Linked DNA regions of Homo sapiens. The protein of the gene in region 1 purifies or fractionates together with the protein of each later gene. This does not show direct contact. Each region holds a gene or a part of one and is shown on either strand. Other genes may lie near its edges.

Region 1 (7,248 bases):
AGGTAAATTTCCATTCCTCCTGGTGGTCCTTGTCAGAAGGACCTACACATCCCAGAGGTTGGCCACAGTACATCTCTGGCTTATGGAAAATGCTCGTTTCATTATCCCAGGAAATCCAAAGCTACCACGTTCTCTCCACTCCAGCTGATCACTCCATCTCTCTTGTATTTTGGGATTCACAGACATGATTCAGACATCAGCCCTCAGTGACAGTCAACCTCCAGGGACACAGCATCTTGGAGGCCAATCTTGGAGGGTGGGTAGTGGGCAATTGGGACTTGGAGTGCTCCTATTGCTTTCTCCAAAATTCCTCCTCTACACCACCAACTGTTCTTCTCACCCAGCTTTCTTTGTGGGCTGAAGATGGTCAGTTAAGAGGGAAACCAGTTTCGTGCCACTTCTTTTGTCAGCCCTGCATGATGGCCTCAGTGTCACAGCTCACTTTGAAACATGTCTTTTGTCCTTGGCAATACCTGAACTGAGACCATAGTCATTTTTACATCCTGCTACACAAATAGCATCTCATTTAGTTTTCATAAAGAACCCTAGGAGTTCTTCTGCATATGGAAGAGGAATCTGGAGCTCAGAAAGGTTAACGAATTCACCCAAAAGAGATTATTCAGCGAGTGGCGGGGAGGGGAGTAGAGATTCAAGCTTTAACCCACTTCATTATTTACTTCTCTGGGCCTTCATCATCCAGGCTTCTTAGAGCTTTTACCTACTGGAGTTTGGTCTGTGCTGCTAAAATGTTTTCTTCTTAGCAGAAAACTATAAAGGTAAACAACAACAACAACAACAACGACAAACACTTCATCGCTGCTTGCACCACTTGTGATGCAGGGGCTGGCAACAGGAGTGACAGGTGCATCAGGAGCTTTCTTAAGTATGTTGTGAGATGAGCTCTGTGTACCCAGGAAAGTCTTTGACTGCTTGAAAGTCCTCCATCCCTGCCCCACTATAATTTAATCAGCAGAATAATGAAGTACAAGTGAAATATCTTTTTTTTTTGTAGAAATGCATAAAAGCAATTCTGTTAGTCTGTTTTGTGTTGCTGTAAAGGAATACCTGAGACTGGGTAATTTTTAAAGAAAAGAGGTTTATTTGGCTCACGTTTCTGCAGGCTGTACAAGCATGGCACTTGCATCTGCTCAGCTTTTGGTGAGGCCTCAGGGAGTTTTACTCATGGCAGAAGGTGAGGGGGGAGCATGTCACACGGTGAGAAAGGGTGCAAGAGAGTGCCAGGCTCTTTTTAAATGACCAGCTTTCTTGTGAACTTACAGGGTAAGAACTCACTCCATTATCACCAGGGCAGCACCAAGTCATTCATGAAAGATCTGCCCCCGTGACCCAAACATGTCCCACTAGACCCCACCTCCAATGCTGGCAATCTCATTTCAACATGAGATTTAGAGGAGACAAACATTCAAACTATATCAGCAATATTGCATTCTGAGAATTTTATTCAAGGCAGAAGGGGCCATATCATCTCACCTTCTAGCTCCCAGGAGGTACTTAACCTAAAGATGACTTCCGAATATGAAGCTATTTAAAAGAAAAAAAAAATCCTCTTTTTTGTTTAGATTTTTAATTATTTTCTTTACAAATAAAGAAGCCCAAGCCTGTCATTGCCCATTCTTCCTTAGGAAAGGGAAAGCTACATATGGGCCTGGCAGTGGTTCAGAGGCTGCCTGCCAAGGCTGTGTCAGGTTCATCTGGCAGCCGTGCAGAGCTGGGCTGGGCTGGGCCGGGCTGAAGTTGGGGCCCAGGGCACAGGCCTGGGATGGGCTGGAGCTGCAGCTGTCTCCGTCCAGTGAGGAAGGGGAGGATGATATTTCTGTTCACCCACTCAGCAATTATTTAACAAACATTTATTGTGCCCAAGACTTTTGTGGGCTCTCTGCCAGGAAAGGGCAGGTCATTGAATGGGCCCTGGGAAAAATGATGTCTGAGCTTCTCTCCAGTTCTCAGAGAAAGGTAAAGCACTGGAAGCGGGCGATTCAGGGAGAGGGCATGGAGGCATGGAAAAGCATGGTGTGCTTGGAGATCTATGGATGGTTTTGAACTGCTCAAGCACAGGCCGGGGTCAAGGGAGGGCAGGGGTCAGAAGAGGGAGGAGGAAGAAGGTGGAGGAGCTTCCAAATTGGAACTTGGTAGGCAGGTTGGGCCCTGGGAGGGCCACAGAAGGGTCTGAAGCAGAGTTGTGACCAGAGTGGGTTTGTCTTTTAGAGGGAACTCTGAGGCAGGACGGGGACACACTTGAGCATCAGAGGCGTCAAGGCTCAGGGAGAGGGGTGAGGGAAGATGAAGGGCAGAACCGAAGCCCTGGCTGAGATCATGGGAATGGGGAGGGGTTAAGCTGGAGAGAGTGGCAGCCACCTGAGGGAGGGGTTGGTCTAGAATGTCTTTCAGGTTTCTGACTTGAACTACAGAAGGGATGCTATGCCATGATGGGTCAGTGTGTGTGTAGGGGGCCGAGGACCCTTCCCAGCTGGAGGAAGTGGGGCATGGGGGGTCGGGGTGTTGTCCTTTCTTTTAATAAACATACGGAGGGGCTGCCCTGAGCTGCGTGCTGGGAGAGGAGAGCAGAGGGGACACCTTCCATTCCTTACAGAGCCCTTGGGCCAATGAAAGAGCAATTCAAATGCAATGGAGCAGGAAGACCCTAAGAGAGAATTGGAAAATGACTGGGAAAATTTGAATGTAGACCAAGCATTCAGTGATATTAGAGAATTATTAATTTTTTAAGGTGTGATGAAATTATTGTGTTTTAGGTGGGAGAATACCCCCTCATCTTTTTTTCTTTTGGGGAGATGCAAGCTGGAATATTTAGGAGTGAAATATCATGATGTCTGTAATTTACTTGGAAACAAATAAATACAGAGGGAGAGAAGGAGAGACAGAAAGAGAATGTGCAAATATGGCAAAACGTTACCAATTGTTGGGAGTATATGGGAGTTTACTGTACTGTTATTGCACTGTGCTTTTGGCTTTTCTGTGTGAAATATTTTGTAGTAAAAACTGGAAAATACAAAGTAGCAAGCGCATTGATGGGAGGTAAGGGTACCACAGGAACACAATGAATGGCCTCTAATCAGAATTTGATGCATGAGGGATGCTTCTAAAGAAAACAGCATCTAAGACCTGAGGAAGAGTGATCCTTGAAGCGGGGATGGGGAAGAATTTTGGGGAGAATGTACTAGGCAGAGAGGGAACAGCCTGTGTGTAGGCCTGCTGGCCTGTCTTGCTAGAGGAACAAAAAGACATTTAACGTGAGTGTCAAATGTGAAGCAGAGTCACCAAGAGATGGGAAGAGAAAGGTAGGCAGGTCCTATAGAGTCTTATAAGTTTGGACTCTGTCCCAACCACAGCATAACTAGGGGGGCTTCATTTCAGAAAGATGCTGGCTCAGCTGGGTGCGGGGGCTCACACCTGTTATCCCAGCACTTTGGGAGGCCAAGGCAGGCAGATCACCTGAGCTCAGGAGTTCGAGACCAGCCTAGGCAACATGGCGAAAACCCATCTCTACTAAACATACAAAAAATTAGCTGGGCATGGTGGCGGGCACCTGTAATCCCAGCTACTCGGGAGGCTGAGGCACGAGAATCGCTTGAGCCTGGGAGGTGGAGCTTGCAGTTAGGTGGAGGTTGCAGTGCACTGCACTCTAGCCTGGGTGACGGAGCGAGACTCTGTCTCAAAATAAAAATAAAAATAAAAAAGAAAGATGCTGGCTCACGTGTGTGCAGTTGCTAGGATCTGGCAGCCCCTGTTTTAAGCACTTCATCTATATGAGTTCGCCTAATCCTCACCATGACTTTATCAAGGATGTGCAGATTAGCACCTCTATTTATGAGAGAAGCCAGCCAAGGCACAGAAGAGTGAAGTCACCTGCTCAAGGTCACATATCTGGAAGAGTCAGGATTCGAGCCCAGGCATCCTGGCTCCAGAGCCCACGCTGCCCTAATCGCAAGGCAACACTGCCTCTTGAGTTTAGTCTCTCTGTGTGGAGAAGGAAGTGGAGGGAAGCAGGACTCTTCCTCAAGACAGGAAGACAGCTTAGGAAGCAACCGTACACATCCAGACTCAAGGTGATGGTGACTTGAACTAAAACAATAACAGTGGTGATGGAGAGAAATAGATGTAATAGAAAGTTATTTTGGAGTGAAATCTATAGGACTTGGTACTTGAACAGTTGTGTCAGGGAAGTCAAAGACAATGCCCAATCCATACCCCACTGAACACCTAGCTCTGTGCCTTCTTGGCAGGAGAAAAGGGCTAGAGTAAGAGAATGTGGAGATACCTTGCTCATAAAAAAATCGAGAAGACATTATCAGAACCATAACATCCCCTTCAACTGTGAGGAGCAGACTGTTGTCCACCCAACCTACATATCTCTTTCCTGGCTTCCACTAATCCTCACTTTTGGTGCAACTTGCCATTTTCACTGTTTGAATTTTTTAATCTGCACCTGTTATAAAATAGAGATCATTCCTTTATCCTGACTTGACTGGAAAAACAGAGTCAAACCACAGCTCCTGGTCCCTTCCCTAATTGTCTCTCAACTCACTAACCTGCCATTAGCCTTGAGTGATGTGACGTATGCACCTGTCTGTGTTTCACAAGAAGCCCTTGATCCTTGGGCCTCTTCAGAGGGCTTAACTGGAATGAAAAATTAAACAAATATTGAAAAAACAATAGAACGAACAATACATGGTCATGTCCCTCTAATCCTTATTGATTTTTAAGATCTTCTCAGGCATGAAAACAAGATTCACTGCTAGCAACCCAACATTGGATTTCTGTTAACTGAAAGAGTGGCTTATTGATCAGGGTGGGATGTCCAGCAGGGCAGGAGCAGGCCTGTGTCTGCCCCACCAGCTAATCAACCCCAATTCAACCCTAAGAGGTGGAGCTCAGTTGGGTGAGAGCTGCACTCACTTGAAATGAGGGACACTGTGGCCCAGGAGGGTCCTCGCAGCATCCTCAGAAGAGACTGAGGCCATTCCTCAGTTATATACCAACTCTCTGGGGACCTCATCTTTTTCTTGCTAAAGGCCTCAAGAATTCCTCATTATTTTTTTCTGTGTCAAAAATAATATAACTACTACATGAATTCATGTGTAGAGGACATGGATCTGCAGAATAAAATGGGTTCATCTACATATGTTCCTGCCTTTCATTCCTCTGTCTCAAGGAATTGTTCATTTAACAACAGATTCAGCTGTTATTCTATGCTGTTTGAAGGTTGGCAATACAGCCATTCACCATATACCAAATGGCAAAAATCCCTGCTCTCATGGAGCTTTTATTTTAGGGGATATTGTGAACAGTTTGGTGAGGAGCCTTCCAATCCATATATGTATTAATACAAACAGGTTTGTGCTGTACATATGATTCTGTGGCTGGCTTTTTTCACTAACAACATGTCTTGGAGCTCATTCTGTGTCAGCATGAATGGTCCTTCCTCATTCTTTGATAGTTGCATAATGGTTCTCTGCAGGGATAAACCCCTGCTAGTAAACATACAGTTATAATTTTTGTTTTCACAAATAGTGTTGCAGCGAACTTCCTTCTGCATGTACTGTTGTACACACACAATTTTGGACACTTACTAAGCCATGATATATAAATTAATTACCCTCTCTGTGCCTCAGTTTCCTCATCTGTACATTGAAAGTCATGGTAATAATCTCCCTCTAGCCATCAGGGAAAAGCAAATGAAAACCATGATGAGACGCACTTTACACTCACTGGGATGGATATAATTTTTAAAAATAGATGACAAGTGTGGGAGAAGATGTGGAGAAATTGGAATCCTCATGTGCTGCTGGTGGGAATATAAAATGATGCAGCTGCTTTGCAAACAGTCTGTGCATTCCCCAAAAGGTTAACACAGAGTTACAATTTAACCCAGCAATTCCACTCATAGGTATATACTCAAGAGAAATAAAAACACATGTTGCCACAAAAATTCGTTTAGAAATGTTCATAGCAGCATTATTCATAATAGCCAAAAGGTGGAAACAACCCAACTGTTCATCAACTAATGAAGAGATAAATAAAATTTGGCATATTCACACACAGGAATATTATGTCACATTAAAAAGATATGAAGTACTGATACAGGATCCAACATGGATGACCTTTGAAACACTATGCTAAGTGCAAGAAGTCAGTCATAAAAAGCTACATATTATATGATTCCATTTATATGAAAGGTCCAGAATTGCCAAATGTATAATGACAGAAAGTAGATAAGTGGTTTTTAGGGGCTGGGGTTGAGTGGGAAGGGAGGAAATGGAGAGTGACTGTTAATGGGTATGAAGTTTCCTTTTTGGGGTGATAAAAGTGTTCTAAAATTTGCTGTGGTGATGGTTGTACCTATCTGTGAATATACTAAAAGCCATTGAATTGTATACTTTAAATGGTTGAATTGTATGGTAGGTTCTATGGTCTGAATATTTACGTCCCCCTGAAATTCATCTTTTGAAACCGAATTACTAATGTGATGACGTTTTGGAAGTGATTAGGTCATAAGGGTGGGGCCCTCCTGAATGAGATTTTTGCCATTACTGAAAAGGCTGGAGAGAGACCCTTCACCCCTTCCATCGTGAGGATACAGCAAGAAGGCACCGTCTATAAACCAGAAAGTGGGCCCTCAATAGACACTGAATCTGCCGGTGCTTTGATCTAGGACTTCCCAGCCTCCAAAACTGTAAGAAACAAATTTCTGTTGTTGATAAGCCATTCAGTTTATGGCGTTTTGTTATAGCAGTTTAAATGGACTGAGTTAGTATATGAATTATATTTCAATAAAGCTGTTATTAAGTAAAGTAAGGTTGCTGTGAGGACTGACTGAATTACATAAGATGTGTATAAAGGTGCTGGCACTTTGTCTTTTTGGGCCTAGCTTATGTCACTTAGCCAGGAATCTCCTTTCAAATGACAGGATCTCATTCTTTTTTATGGCTGAATAGTACTCCATTATGTATATGTACCATATTTTCTTTTTTTAATTATTACACTTTAAGTTCTAGGGTACATGTGCACAACGCGCAGGTTTGATACATAGGTATACATGTGCCATGTTGCTTTGCTGCACCCATCAACTCATCATTTACATTAGGTATTTCTCCTATCCCTCCCCCAGCCCCCCATCCTGGTGTGTGATGTTCCCTGCCCTGTGTCCAAGTGATCTCATTGTTCAATTCCCACCTATTGTTCAAAACCCACATGTGGTGTTTGGTTTTC
Region 2 (7,248 bases), on another chromosome or scaffold:
CAGGTGGGAGTGTGCAGCACTCTGGCAGCCTGTGGCCTGTCGGGGCAGCGGAGTGAGATGAGGCTAGACCAGGAAGCAGTCCCAGAAATGACAAGTGTCATCCTGAAGGTGGTAGGACGGGGCATGGAGAATGGAGACCTAGATCAGATTTATATTCAGAAGCTCTGCCCCCTGGAGTCGGTCGCTTTGTGAGGTGCCCACTTTCCATGGTGCCCCCCCCGCCCCCATCCTCCCAGGGTTGAGATGACCTGAGGCCTTTGGGAGCAGCTTCCAGCAGGGTCTAAAACTGGGATTCTCCCTCTCCAGGCAGGAGTCCTCTCCCAGCAGGAGCCCAGGCTGTGGAGCAGCCTCATAATAGTGTGGCTTTTGACCCTTCTCCTTCCTGTTGCTCATTTATCTGACTTTAAACAGTTAGTTTATTTTTAGAGTAATAATGTGGAGTTAATTAGCCTTCTCCCTTAAAAACGCCACCTTTTGCATGTAATTATCATATAGCAGCAGTTCCGTAAAGCCTTCCTAACGTGGCATTCCCCTGAATGCATTCCAGAGTGGAATGGGACCTAACTGGCTGTTGAGTCTTTAAAATTTTTTCATTGTCCATTTTATACCCAGCCTGTAATGAGAAAACGAACTACTCCTGGGAAGACTAGGTGCTGCTCAGCCTCCACTTGCTCTCGCTCGAATTGGAATGATAGGGGAGAACATATGGAGGCCCCCGCCATAGTTAACTCACCAGAACCCCTCAACACAGTTTTCTGTCTCTGCAGGTCACGCAATATTTAAACTCACGTATCTAAGCAATCACGACTATAAACACCTCTACTTTGAATCGGACGCTGCTACCGTCAATGAAATTGTGCTCAAGGTGAGTATTCCTTCTTGAACCAGAGACAGGGTAGGTGGGTCCAGCTTCTCTTCAGGCTGTTTGCGGCATGGCCGCAGCCCCACCCACTCCGCAGCTCTATAGAAGGTTCCCGGGCCCAGTTTGGCAGAGGAGGAGTGTCGCAGCTTGCCAGCCACCCAGGGGTGAGTGCCTGTGCCAGGGCCACACCAGCCCCCGCTCAGCTGCTCTGCACCTGCTTCAGTCAAAGCAGGACCCTTTTCAGTTTCCTCCCAATCCCAATAACCCTGGCTCTTCCTGTATTTGTTTATTCCTTTTATGTACTGTTTATTTTCCTGCAACCATTGTCAGGAGCTCCTTGAAGCTCCTGGAGCAGACTCTGAGGAAATTATTATTGTTTTGAAGATAATTATGCTGAAGGTGATTTTAGCAACCTGTTCTAAACATACCTAACTTTCTGCTAGACTTGTATGTCACCATACCTAAACAGTATACTCACTGAGCACCTTCCGTGTGCCTGGCCACGGCCTGGGATGCCACGGTGACAGACTCTGTCCCTGCCCCTGGAGAGCTTTTCCTCTACCAGAGGAAACAGGCATAAAACACAAAATTACAAAGAGATCGTTAGTCTCAAAGGTGTGGGTGTGTCACAGTAAACTGACTTGGGGTGGAGGTATGGAGGCAGGGAGAGCTGAACCCTGAAGGATGACTGAAAAGGCACAGATGTTGACCAGGTAAAGAGAGAGGAAGCACCACAGACAGGCAGCCTGGGAATGGGCTGAGGCAAGGCAGGCACAGGGGGATGGGGGGCTGGGGGGGCTGGGGGAGCTGGCGGGGCTGGCGGGGCTAGGCCGTGCAGGGCCTTGCAGAGTGGAGTGTGGCTGAGAGGAGCTCTGCTTGGCATGGGAGCCTCCAGGGGTCTTGCGGATTTGGGAGGTCTGGGATAGGACCTGAGATCATACGTTTCCAAGAAGCGCCAGATGCTGCTTTGGCCGCTGGTCTGGGCACCACACTCTGAGTAGCCCTGGACTAGGGGTCTCAGCCTCTCCCAAGCAGAGAATCCTTTCTTCAAGCCAAATCTTCCATAGGTTGATCAGATAGGAAAAGCAGCTGCTGTGGCAGAGCAGGGGCGAGGACCAGAGAGGGCTCCCCCACCCCTAGTTGTGTGACCCTGGCTAGTCACATCACCTTTCTGGGACTCAGTGTCCCCACCTGTAAAGTGGGGATCATAGTACCTATGCTACCCCACCCCACCAGGGCTGCTAGAGTACAAATCAGATGAGACATGGTAAACCTATGTAAGTTATCATTCAGTCTCTTCTGAAGAGTTGAAGTCATCACATAATAGCAGAAGTAGCGAAGATATGCTGAGGGACTGCACAGTGCAGGACCTGGGCCAGAGGCTCCACGTGTCCCATCACAGTGCATCTTCACAGCTCTGTGAGATCATGAGATAAAGTTGTTCCCATTTCCCAGATGAAAAGTGAGGATCAGGAATAAAGTAGCAGAGCCAGGATCATGACTCTGGTAAGTTGGCAGAACCAGAACTTGCCCCCAGATTTGACAGATTTCAGACTTGTGTTTTAATTCCCCAGATATGCATGACCTAAGAGTTGTGTGGGAGATTTCAATGAAATAGAATTGCGATCCAGGAATATATTGAGACACATTCCCCATGGCTGCAAAAGATTTTCAAAAGGAGTAGGTAGCAATTTAAAAGAGCAGCTGGAAGGACAGTTTGGAGCAGACAGAGTAGCATGATTAGCTGGATGAAAGGGAGAGGGTTCATAGACCAGCCTGATCAGAGCCCCTCCTTGGACCAAGGAGTGGGGACACGGGCCTGCCTGGGAGTGCTTGCAGCCAGCGAGCTTCGAGTTACCCACTGGAGCATCACAGACAGCACGGGCCCCTTGTGCAGAGTGTTCAGGGACCTGGCAGAGAAATATTCCATTACCCCGATAGGGGCTGGACTTTTTTTTTTTTTTTTTATAGCCAGCATTAAAATATTCAAGACTTGAGAAGGATTCTAGTAAAATTATAATCCCATGTTTGACATCAAAATAATTTTCACAACAGCAGATTGATGACAGAAACACAGGTTTATGACTTCAGTATGAGACTGTGGAAGATCAAGTGCAGAGAAATCATTTTACAGGTCCAAATGCTCCCTCGAAGCAGATGCTTCTCTGCAAAATCCGTGAGGTCTGTCACCTTCCCTAAAGTGTCTGTTTCCATATCAAAATATTTGCAGAAATATTGTGTCATGCACAAGACTCCAGAAGAGTTGTAGCATACCCTAGGCCTGATTTACTTAGAGCTAATGATCATGAGCCTGATGGAAGATGAGATAGTACTTCTCCCACCTCTGATTTTTTTTTTTTTTTTTTTTTTTTTTTGAGACAGAGTCTCACTCTGTTGCACAGGCTGGGGTGTAGTCGTGTGATCTCTGCACACTGCAACCTCCACCTCCCGGGTTCAAGTGATTCTCCTGCCTCAGCTTCCCGAGTAGCTGGGATTACAGGCACCCGCCACCAAGCCCAGCTAATTTTTTTCTATTTTTAGTAGAGAACGGGGTTTCACCATTGGCCAGGCTGGTCTCGAACTCCTGGCCTCAAGTGATCTGCCCACCTCAGCCTCCCAAAGTGCTGAGATTAAAGACATGAGCCGCCAGGCCCGGCCCCATCTCTGATTTTTATAGCAATTGGAATACTTAGTTTTATCCACCATTCCTGCAGTGTCCTGAGTGTGTCTTTGTGAGCTTTGCACCAGTACCAAGCAACGGAAGCCCAGCCCTGTGTCCGGGAGCTTGGGAGAAATGTTGTTGCCATCAGAAGCTCTTGAGGAGTCAGTTTAGACTCTAGTAATGCATGCTGTTGTTCTAGAATTCAGGAATTTTACATAAAATGAGAGCTTAGATGGAAATTGAAGGGAGGAAATAAGAGCCACAATCTGATGTCAAATAAACAATCATGAACAAAGCCTCCATCGAGCTTTTTGCGCTTGTAGAAATAGGAACGTCTCCCATTTATTGAACACCAGCTACATGCAGTACATCTAATGTCCATTATCTTGTTTAATCTTCCTGACCGCCCTCCAGAATGTAGACATTGTCCCCATTTTATAGAAGAGGAGATGGAGGCCCAAGGTCACAGAGCACACAAGGGTGGAGCCTCTACTTGAACCTGGCCCGAGAAGCTCCAGAGCCGCCCTCTTCCCATCAAGATGTCACTGAGCTAAGCCATGGGTGGTCCCTAATTCCACAGGCTTTGAGATGAATCTCAGAGGAGTTGTCGGGCTCTTCAAATCAGGTTCTTCTCGTGATTGAGTGATGGAGGCTGTGGCTTTATTGACCATGAAAACTCCCTATATTTTTATGCCTTAAGCTGTAAAATGCGTTGAAAATGAAACACTCTATAGTGCATAAAATTGTGCCAGTTTTAAGCCACAGCATATTAACCAGCTAATGGCAGAGCAAAGGGCGTTTTTATCTTTTGATTATTACATTAATCTTCCATTAACATTATCTATGTGATTATCACAAAGCACTGAAGATAATAAATTTGGGAAATAGTTGGCTTGTTAAGGATCATTTTAAAATGCTTTTGTCAAGTTATATGTGCCAAAAATACACTGAAAACACTAGGTTGGCTGAGTGTGCAAACAATATAATCCAAAGATTTCTTGTATTAAGAATGATAAAACCTCTTATTTCCATACACTGTATTGTCCCAAATCATCAACCTGGCCCTGCGGTCCTCATGATTTATTGCTCTCAGCTGGTAACTTGGCGAGGCAGCGGGCAGAGCGTGTCAGGCCTTCTGTACTCACGCACCAGCCTTTAACGCCTGCTGCTCCAACCAGCAGAGCAGAAAGTTGGGAGGGACAGTGTTGAAGCCTCGGCCATCTGAGGCGTTGCCATCTCGCGCTGCCTCCCCCGGGAGCCCTCTGGTTCCTTCTCGGAGTCAGCAGAAGCTCCTCTCCCTCTGGCACAGGACACATGGCCCTCGGAGTAGAATCAGCAGAGGCAGTGGCTGGCCTCTCTTGTCAGAAATATTCAGCCTTCTAGTCAAAACTTTTAGATACTTGCAGGTGAAGAGAAATAGCGTCTGTTCACCAAAAGCCCCAGCCAGAGGAGCAGAGGAGGTGAGAGGCTGCGGAGCAGGAAGGGGTGTTTGCCAAGCGCCTGACACCTTCTAGCTTTGTGACCTTGACTAAATGACATTATTGTCATTGGCCTTGACTTCCTCACCTGTGCATGGGGATGACAGTGGCATCTGTCTCAAGATTATTGTGAAGATTCCATGAGCGCTGAAAGGCACTCCGAGCAGTGCCAGTTGCCACCACTGATTTCACACTGCTGCTGCCGCCCATGCCCAGGCACAGGCTGTCCTCAGCACTGGGGCGTGTGCATCCCACTGTAGCACCCCTCCCTGGCTCCCACCACCTCATTTCACTAAGCCAGCCAAGCTCTCGCAGTTCCAGGGACACTCCCTTGTGGCGTGCCCCTGCTGTGCCTTGATGCATGCTGCGTCTCTCCTCCCCGTTGCGCACTCAAAAACTCCTGTGTATCCCTCAAAAGCCCGCTCACTCTTTTCCTCTGGAAGCCTTCCCTCCTCCACACCTCCCTGATACTCAGCCCCATTCCTTGATGCTCCTCTTTGCCTGCTGCAGTGCTGGTTCTGCTGCTGGACACCCACTCACCAGGCAGCAAGCTCCCCAGGGCCAGGACCAAGTCTCAGCGCTGTAGCGCTGGGGAAGCGCCTGGCGGTGCAGCTGCTACACAGAGTGGAAGATGCACATGCGACTCCGGGCAGACTCCCAGGGCTTCGTGGAAGCAGCAGCGTGCAGAAGGCCTGAGAGGAGCCCAGGAGGCAGCCCCGCCCTTCACACAGGGCTCTTTCAGCCCCCTCACAGCTCTCACCCTGACTTCCACGTGGCCTAGGCCACTTTGGCCTCCCTCTCTGAGCCTCTTTCCTTTTTGTCAAGTGAGCCCTGCCTGGCTGGGCACTCATGAGCCCTGAAGGAAGCACTGTGGTGGGAAGCTCTGCGCCTGGCTGGTGGGAGGCTGGATGGAGAGCCTGTCTTGGTTTGCTTTTCATCCCTGTGTTCTCGGCCTTCACACAGGGAAAGGCAGGCTCAGAGAGGTTATGTGCTTGTCCAGGTCACACAGCAGGTGGGAGGCATAGCCAGGCAGCCCAGGGCACAGCCTTCCGGGAGTGGCTCACGCCAGGAGGGAGCATGGGCTCCGGAACCTGAAGAGCTCGCCGCTCACTGACTGGGAAGCCTGGACTGGCCACTTGGCTTCTCCAAGCCTCTGTTTTCCCATCGTAGAGCAGCGGCTCTGGGCCCAGCCGCTGCCAGGTTGCTGTGATGACTGGACTCCTTCCACACGACAGCACCTGGCCCTGAGGCACCCGGCCCAGGTCAGGGCCTTCCCTGCCACCCCCTCCGATGCCCTGGGTGGGTAGGGAGCGGCTGGCAAGGTGACCGGGCTGTGTGCTCTTGTTTCTAGGTTAACTACATCCTGGAATCGCGAGCTAGCACTGCCCGGGCTGACTACTTTGCTCAAAAACAAAGAAAACTGAACAGACGTACGAGCTTCAGCTTCCAGAAGGAGAAGAAATCCGGGCAGCAGTGACACTGGCCTCCAGCCTCAATCTGTTCCGTAGCTCAGAGCCTGCCTGCCAGGGCCAAGTGCCCTAGAGTCCACCCGGTGTCCTGAAGTCCTCGGGGGGAGGCCAGCCCCTGGCTCACTGGCACAGGGCAGGTGGGCTCTCGGGGAAGGTGTCGGGGGCCCCCTAGGAGGGAGCGCTGGGGACATTGCCATGGGACGGAAGTCTGCTTGGCAGTGGCTTTGATAAGCGATGCTTGGGGGTCAGACCACCCCCTAGAGGAGCCACGTGCCGCCCAGCCACCTTCAATGCCTGCCACCCTGCCCGAGGATGTACAGAGCCGTGCCCACACATTTCCTTGCAACTTGATCAAATTTCTTAAAGCAAACAACAAAAATGTACATTTCTGTTTTTCCTTTTAATAAACAGGTGTACTCTTTATCATGGTTGGTATGATGGACCATTCTTTGGGGCGGAGGATTGATTATGTTACTCTCTTTAAAATCTGTTCCCATATTGAACAGGCAGATTGGAAAAGCTATGGTTCGATTTCTCAGAAGAAATGTTTAGGTCTTAGTCAATAGTTTTAACTATGCCATTTGTTTAAATGAGTGCATTTGCTTCGAGGGTAGTGTCTTACTAAAAGTTAGGAACAGAGACCTAGTGGTGTGTCCAAGGCCGTGTCACTTTCCCCTTCAGCACACCCCAGCTTCTGACCTCAGAGCCCAGGAGCTGCGTGGACAGTGTGGGGTGCCAGGAGGAGGGGCGGTGGCTGGTCCTCAGGCACGCTGCACT
Region 3 (7,248 bases), on another chromosome or scaffold:
GCACAGATTCACTTTCACTATTATGTCTAGAGCTGGTTGACTCCGAGTTCAAACTTAGAGTGCTTGGGATAGATGAAAGTTCATTACAGAGTTGTTCCACATCATCTGGAACCACTGGCCACAGATGTTTGCGACTATGCCTCACAGCATCCCAGTTGTGACATTTTAGAATATCACAGCCTTGTTTGGTTTTAGCTATGAGCCCAAGTACATATACACAGGTCCTGTATATAAAAGATGCAGTAAAAACAGTTATAATTCCAAGCTGAGATTTCTTAAAGCCACCACAGATTAATTTGCTATACATACTTTGAACTTTCTCTAAAACCCACCAAAATGGTTGCGTTTGTGGAAAAAAAAAAACTTATTAAGACTAGTCAGGAATAAATTAGCAGCAATAAAAAACAAGCAAACCTTCCCAATAAAAATAGTAATTACAACAAAATAAAAAGAACACAATGCAACATGAGCAAAAAAGGTATATTAGCTTTTCTAGTATAAATCTGGAACAGCTGGGTTACAGGAATACTGGAGTATCTGTACAACACTATGCCTTACCTGTTACCTACAAGGTAAACTTCAATATAATAAAAATCAAATTATAGTAGTAAACAAGGAGTTCGTTTAGATGTTTAACTTAATACAGTTAATAATCTTGTATCATTAGAACTTTCAGTGGATTAACAGTTATGCATTGCACTTAATCATAAAATACTTTCCCCTAACATCCATTTGTGAATAACAACGTCTACATTAGAAAGATTTCTGAGTTAAATGACCTACCCTCTGATGGAAAGAACTTCACACTGTTTTGCAAGTTTTAGTATATCTGGAATCACGTTTTCTTCCTGTAGCAAATTGAGACCCCAATTTGATGAGCCGATATTTCCCTGAAAGAAAAGAAATCACTTACATCAAATATAAGAGTCACTCTTTCAAAAGATTTGGAAAGCTACCAAGAAACAAATTTAACCTCATCTCTGAGAGAGAAAAAATGTAAAAGCCTCCTCAAGTACAAAACATTAGGCATGAATTAATTCTAGTTGTCTTAGCAACAAAACAAAAGTCATGAAACCAATAGTTCAACCATCTATTCTTCAACATAGAGATAATACACTTATATTGGCAGGAACAATCCAGTCTTAAATATTAATCTAATAAGTAGTTCCAAAGAAAATATTTATCTATTTAGTATAAATGAAAAAAAAACTTAAAAATCTAAAAATTGCGAAGATCTTACAGAAGTGTTTATTACAAACCAAGGCCCAAAGAGATGCTTTCAGTTTTTTAATTTCTTCCCACTTATCCAAATCTGGTGTACGAACATTACGACAGAGTTCTGTAATAATATTCTGGAGAAAGAAAAAAAAATACCATGAGTAATAATATATTTATGTATTTAATATATTATTATTGCATCATAAAACCAGTATAACGTTTGTTTTTTGTCATTTTTGCATATTTAAATTCTAAATAATTTTATGTAAAATTTCTTGAGAAGCAGCATAGGGCAGGGGTTCTGAATTCACATTCTAGAATTATCACTTATTAACTGCATGGCCTTGGGCAAGTTACTTCATCTCCTCATCCTTTGATTTCCTAATATCTAGAAGAGTGATAATAACATTTGCATCATAAGGTTTCAAGATTTAATAAATTATTGCACATACAGTGCTTACCAAAGTACTTGGCACTTAGTATTACTAAATAATCATACTTATTCTTTAAAACAGAAAGTAAATTAGTGCTTAGGTTTTATCATACTATGTAAGTAGTAACACTGAGAAAATCATTTAAATTTTTAGTGAAATTTTCAAATGTTAATATGAAAATACTTGTCCCAACAGTTTTCACAGACGTAATATAAAAACACATGAAACTATAGAGTACATTTATGCAAAACTTTGTGCTCTTGAGATGAATACTGATACAATCGGGAACTAAATTGTTAAATAACTATTGTTCTGTCACAAAAACAAATATTCCTATAACTTTATTTCTAAAATAAGAGAAACGTTACATTTATTGGAAACAGTTGCATGACATATTCACAACCATAAATGCGGTGTACATATTATAACTCAAAGAACAACTGCTTGCCTATGCTTGTTAACATTCCATGAAGTACGCGAGAATAAAATGTGCTCACAACCAGCAACTTTCAATTTATTGCTCAACAAGGATAACTTAATCTGTATTAGGTTCAGTTTAATTTCCCAATGAGTGGAAGAAAAACTCGGTTTTTCAGTACGTTTTTGGAGATCTGAATTTCTCCACTAAACTCTAAAAAAAGAACTCAGATCTTCATTGGATTGCTTACTCTACATAACAAGTTAGTTATTCAAAAAGTCATACACAAGTCAGTTAATGCATTGCAAGGCCATTAATATTTCTCAGGTTAATAAATATAGAATGCCTAAGTCAATTACAAAATAGATGAATTTAAAAGCAATTACACCACTGATATTAAAGCTTTTGAGAAGTTTTTGCAAAGGTAATATTTTAGCAATGTTAAGATTTTGTTTTTTTTTTACTATTGTAGCTACTTAAAATAAGTGAATTATGTTTTTACCTGTACTTCCAACAAATGGCAGCCTGTTTTATGGTGTACTAGTTGTCCATAAAGGTGTATAGGCAGGTAGACGTGAGGACGCTGTAATCTAGTATAATAAAGATGATTACTATATCTCTTGGCTAATTTAAATATGCTAATTAGAACAAAAGAATTTTAATAAATGTTTGATAAATAAAATTAGATACAACTCTCCAGCATAAATAAAAATATGAAAGTAACAAGGAATGAGGATTTCTCAGGTAAAATATAGGCTGGGCTTCCCTAATCCAAAATGATCCAAAATCCAAAACTTTTTGAGCACTGACATGACACTGTAAGTGGAAAATTCCACACATTAGTATTTAATGCAAACTATTTCATACAGAAAATTACTTATAACACTGCATAAAATTATGTTTAGGCTACGTGTATAAGGCGTATATGAAACAGATTAATTTCATGTTTAGACTTGGGTACCATTCCCAAGGTATCTCGTTATATATATGCAAATATTCCAAATCTGAAAAAATCTGAAATGCGAAACATTTCATCATTTTGGATAAGTGATGTTCAACCTGTAACAGTTTATCAGAGCTCAAAGTACTGGTAAGAGAATCTAGGCCTAGAAATACAGACTGGGGTGCCAGCATGGAGTATATGTGAATGCGTTATCAGTAAGGATATTCAACATGCCATGAATGCCACTGAATTTTTGAGCAATTAATGCTGCGCATTAAGATTCTTCCTATATCATGTTAGAAGCAGAATATACAAAAACTCAGAAATGTTAAAAATAATTTATGATGAACTAGTTTTAAATCTGATAACTGGGTACGCACCTTTGGTTACTCCGACGAACATAGTTATCACCATCAACAGGCTTCCGGTAAGTAGTAAGTGCTTCATTGAGTTGTTCCTCAATCAAGTCAACATATTTGGAGTTGTATTCCTAGAGGATAATATTGTTTTAATTGCACATAGTATCACAATGAGTCACTAAATTTAAAATATGTCAGATACTTAGCAAAGGGTAGACAGATCAAGGTATTATGAATGCAAATGTTCTATCATATCCATAAGCTTTTGGCTCAGGTTTCAACTAGTACTATATACTAATGACCCCCATATCTGCCATTTTCCTCACAAATCTGAGCTCCAGATCCACATTTTCAAGCCATCACGTGGTTACTGCACAGACAATGCCAGTTCAACATATTGAAAATTCATTAGCCTAATCTTGAATCACTTTTTATAAATGTGATCTCTTAATAGTGATCCATTATATATTGTCATTAAATTAGAAACCTTATGAGCCAAGTTGGACCTCTTATTTACTGTATCCAATCAGCCCACAAATTCTGTCCATCTTATTTTGAAAATACCCAGAAAATGCGTCCTCATCTAATCAACCTAACTACCAGTGAAGTTCAGGCACTCATCAATTCTTGTTTCTAAACTTGTGTCAATATTTCTAGACTTTACCTTCAATGATCAAAATTCCTCCTCTTCACTGCAACCTGTCAGATTACTAAAGCACAACTCTGATCACTCTTTAAAAGCTGTTAAGGATTCCCCACTATATATACAATTGAAATCCCTTAGGATGATATAATATGGCTTACGAGGCCTTTTACAATCTAGCTTTAATTTACCATTCCAGCCTCATCTTGCCACTCCACACTTACCTTAGTTCCAACTACATTGGAATATGACTTTCTTCATAAGTCTATAATGTTCCAATGATCTATACAGCTTTATTCTGCTCCTTCTTCCGTGGATACCCTTCTTCTAATTTATTTGCCTACTTACTCCTCAAGACCATTTCAAGTATCACATCTACGGCTCCTATTCAACATTTCTTTTGATAATCCCTAAGGCAGAATCATTAATCTCTCCTCTGTGTTCCCTTATACCTTGCATGTAACTTTGTTATAGCTCTTATATTTTATGCTATTTTCAAGCACTGCACCAATATTCTAAGCAATTTTCTAATACTATGATTTGTATAATAAATTTTATTATGATGATTTAAATATCTTCTAGGAAACAAACCTATCACATCTTGTCTCAGTTCTACAATTCATCAAATACTAAAAGACTTCATGCCTTAAGTTGTATGCTTGGAAGTTTTAGTCCATTTAAGGAGTATCTCTTATGAAATATGGTTCAATATAGACACTATAAAAGAATGTGTAACTATGTTAACAAAAAAGAGAAAACAGGATAACTGATCTGAAATGATGAAAAATCTAAAAATCATTTATATCGGTAAAGATCATTTTGACCATGGGTTTCCAAGATGCTTCGATGACTTATAATACTTCAAACAAAATAATGAAGCCACAGCAATCACCAGCTAAAGAAAAGCTAGAAAAGTTGTTTCATATCTTCAAACTACTCCCTTCTTAGCAGGTTTCCCTATGACAGCAAGAAGTTCATTCTCAGATTTAGGTAAAGTAGTATCCTAAAGTAAAGTTTAACTAAATGATTATATCTCCTTGGGATTTCAATCTCCCTTCATTTAAAAAAATTATTTTGGTTTTAGCTTAAAGGGCTCATGCAAAGTTGTAGGCCATATTAAGGGACCGAAGAATGAAAGAAATGATAAACAGGGCCAAAAATTAGATTATAAAATCAAATGAGTTGAGAGTCAAATTTCAATAGAACGAATACAGTCAACAGTTCAGAATGAAAGAAATAACTGTAGTTTAAAAAAATGTATAACTATAAATACTAGCAATTATGCAGAATTTAGGATTCAACTTGATATTGATGTTTAAATATTTAACCTTATTAATTTCAAAACACTGATATAAAAAAACCATCCTCTAAATTCACAAATCAATTTCAGAAGATAAAAACACACAAATTCAACTTTATTCAAATAAGAAGTTACCCTGTGCCACTTTTCCAATTGTTTTGCTACATAACCTCTTTCATTCAGATAGGAAAATCCTTTTGGAATGGAGAGAAATCTGCAAATTAAAACAAGCAATAGTTTAACATTGAGTCTGGCAAAAACGTATCTTAAGAAGCTAAAATAACTAAAATTTAAAAAAGTATAAGGAGCTAAAAGACTTTAGGAATAGTTCGTTCCTAAAACTAAAAGGTCAACTATAATTTATTATAACTTCAATTACAAATAAATTTTCACAATCTTTGCAACAACACGCGAACCCAATCACAATAAAGAAAATGTCAGCCAGGCACGGGGGCTCACGCCTGTAATTCCAGCACTGTGGGAGGCCAAGGTGAGTGGATCACCTGGTCAAGAGTTCAAGACCAGCCTGGCCAACATGGTGAAACTCCAACTCTACTAAAAATACAAAAAATTAGCTGGGCGTGGTGGTGTGCGCCTTTAGTCCCAGCTACTTGGGAGGCTGAGGCAGGAGAATCACTTGAACTTGGGAGGCAGTGGTTGCATCGAGCCAACATTGGACCATTGCACTCTGGCCTGGATGACAAAGCGAGGCCGTCTCAATAAAAAAAAGGAAAATGTCATGAAAAGTATGAACAGACCAAAAAAATTAAAAAAAAAGAAAAACCCAAAATAATGAAAAGACAATGTTTCAATATTAAAAGGTAAACTCTTCAGCGTACTTCCCATTTGGATTTGAATCTATCTTTAATATACACTGCCAAAGAACACAACAAAAAAACATAACAGAAAATTTACTTAAAATTTACCTCAGCAGGAGAAGCAAACCCTTGTCTCCAAGGTGGGATAACGCTGGTTTCATCTGAATGAGAGCATGAAGATTGGCCTAAAAGAGATTATCATTATTTTTTTATAATTGCACAAAAATAGCAAAATTTTTAGTTCCAAAATGCCTATTATATACTTTTACATAATTGTCAAATGAGTATTTCAAAAAAATTTAAGTATTAAATTATAAAAAATGAACCTTTACCTTGTCTTCACATGCTTCATCGAGGATATCAAGAGCTTCAGAGGAAATCGTTTTGTTTTTATCATGTAGCTGGGTCACTAACAACTCAATTCCCCAATTATTAAAGAATTCAACATTAGCTCTCAATAATACCCTTAAATGTTTTGTTGCATAGAGTCTGCAGGCCTATAAGGATAAATGAATACATTAAAAAAAAAAAAAACTTCAGCATAAATAGCCTATTTGATTTTATTTTGGGATAGTCCTGCTACTTGAAAAGGGAAGAATGCCTGGAATTGGTGGTCTAGCCCTTGATATGAATACTTTTTTGGTTCTTGTGAAATAGAATACTTCCCTTTCTATCTAGCAGCTTCTTCCCCCGATACAAAAATCTGAGTACTATATGCAGTTCCTTGGAGAAACTAAAATTTTAAAGTAAACTCAATTTCCATATCATATTCTTAGAACTTAATTTTACTTAGCCCAAAATTCATAAAGTAGTGAATTAATTGGTTATAAATATAGTTTTACTGGCTATGTTATACTCACATCAGTAGCTGCAGTTAAAATTTTGGAAAGGATGACTCTAGCCAATCCATCTCTGCTATAGTCCAAGCTAGAAACAGTAAGTTTTAGCAAGTGATCTTGGTTTTTCAAGGAGCAAAGATTAAGGAGACTTAAAAGAAAAAAAAAATAAGAATGGTTAAAAGAAATTACTATATTGATACATTAATTAAACAAATATTTTTTCCAGCTTTACTGAAGTATAAATGACAAATAAAAATTGTATTATTCAAAGTGTAT

Evidence for each region.
Region 2: the proteins of PRR5L (region 1) and MAPKAP1 purify together in Homo sapiens (affinity purification with western blotting; 2 studies listed by BioGRID and IntAct, with this or other methods). This does not show direct contact.
Region 3: the proteins of PRR5L (region 1) and RICTOR purify together in Homo sapiens (affinity purification with western blotting; 3 studies listed by BioGRID and IntAct, with this or other methods). This does not show direct contact.

The regions. Positions count from the first base shown.
Region 1 is NC_000011.10:36,299,097-36,306,344, forward strand, and holds part of PRR5L (proline-rich protein 5-like), read left to right. Parts: intron 1-7,248. UniProt on the Homo sapiens protein: Associates with the mTORC2 complex that regulates cellular processes including survival and organization of the cytoskeleton.
Region 2 is NC_000009.12:125,438,118-125,445,365, reverse strand, and holds part of MAPKAP1 (target of rapamycin complex 2 subunit MAPKAP1), read left to right. Parts: intron 1-767; coding exon 768-865; intron 866-6,353; coding exon 6,354-6,479; 3' UTR 6,480-7,248. UniProt on the Homo sapiens protein: Component of the mechanistic target of rapamycin complex 2 (mTORC2), which transduces signals from growth factors to pathways involved in proliferation, cytoskeletal organization, lipogenesis and anabolic output.
Region 3 is NC_000005.10:38,952,202-38,959,449, forward strand, and holds part of RICTOR (rapamycin-insensitive companion of mTOR), read right to left. Parts: intron 7,121-7,248; coding exon 6,994-7,120; intron 6,631-6,993; coding exon 6,466-6,630; intron 6,319-6,465; coding exon 6,242-6,318; intron 5,530-6,241; coding exon 5,451-5,529; intron 3,504-5,450; coding exon 3,394-3,503; intron 2,661-3,393; coding exon 2,573-2,660; intron 1,353-2,572; coding exon 1,260-1,352; intron 891-1,259; coding exon 784-890; intron 225-783; coding exon 1-224. UniProt on the Homo sapiens protein: Component of the mechanistic target of rapamycin complex 2 (mTORC2), which transduces signals from growth factors to pathways involved in proliferation, cytoskeletal organization, lipogenesis and anabolic output.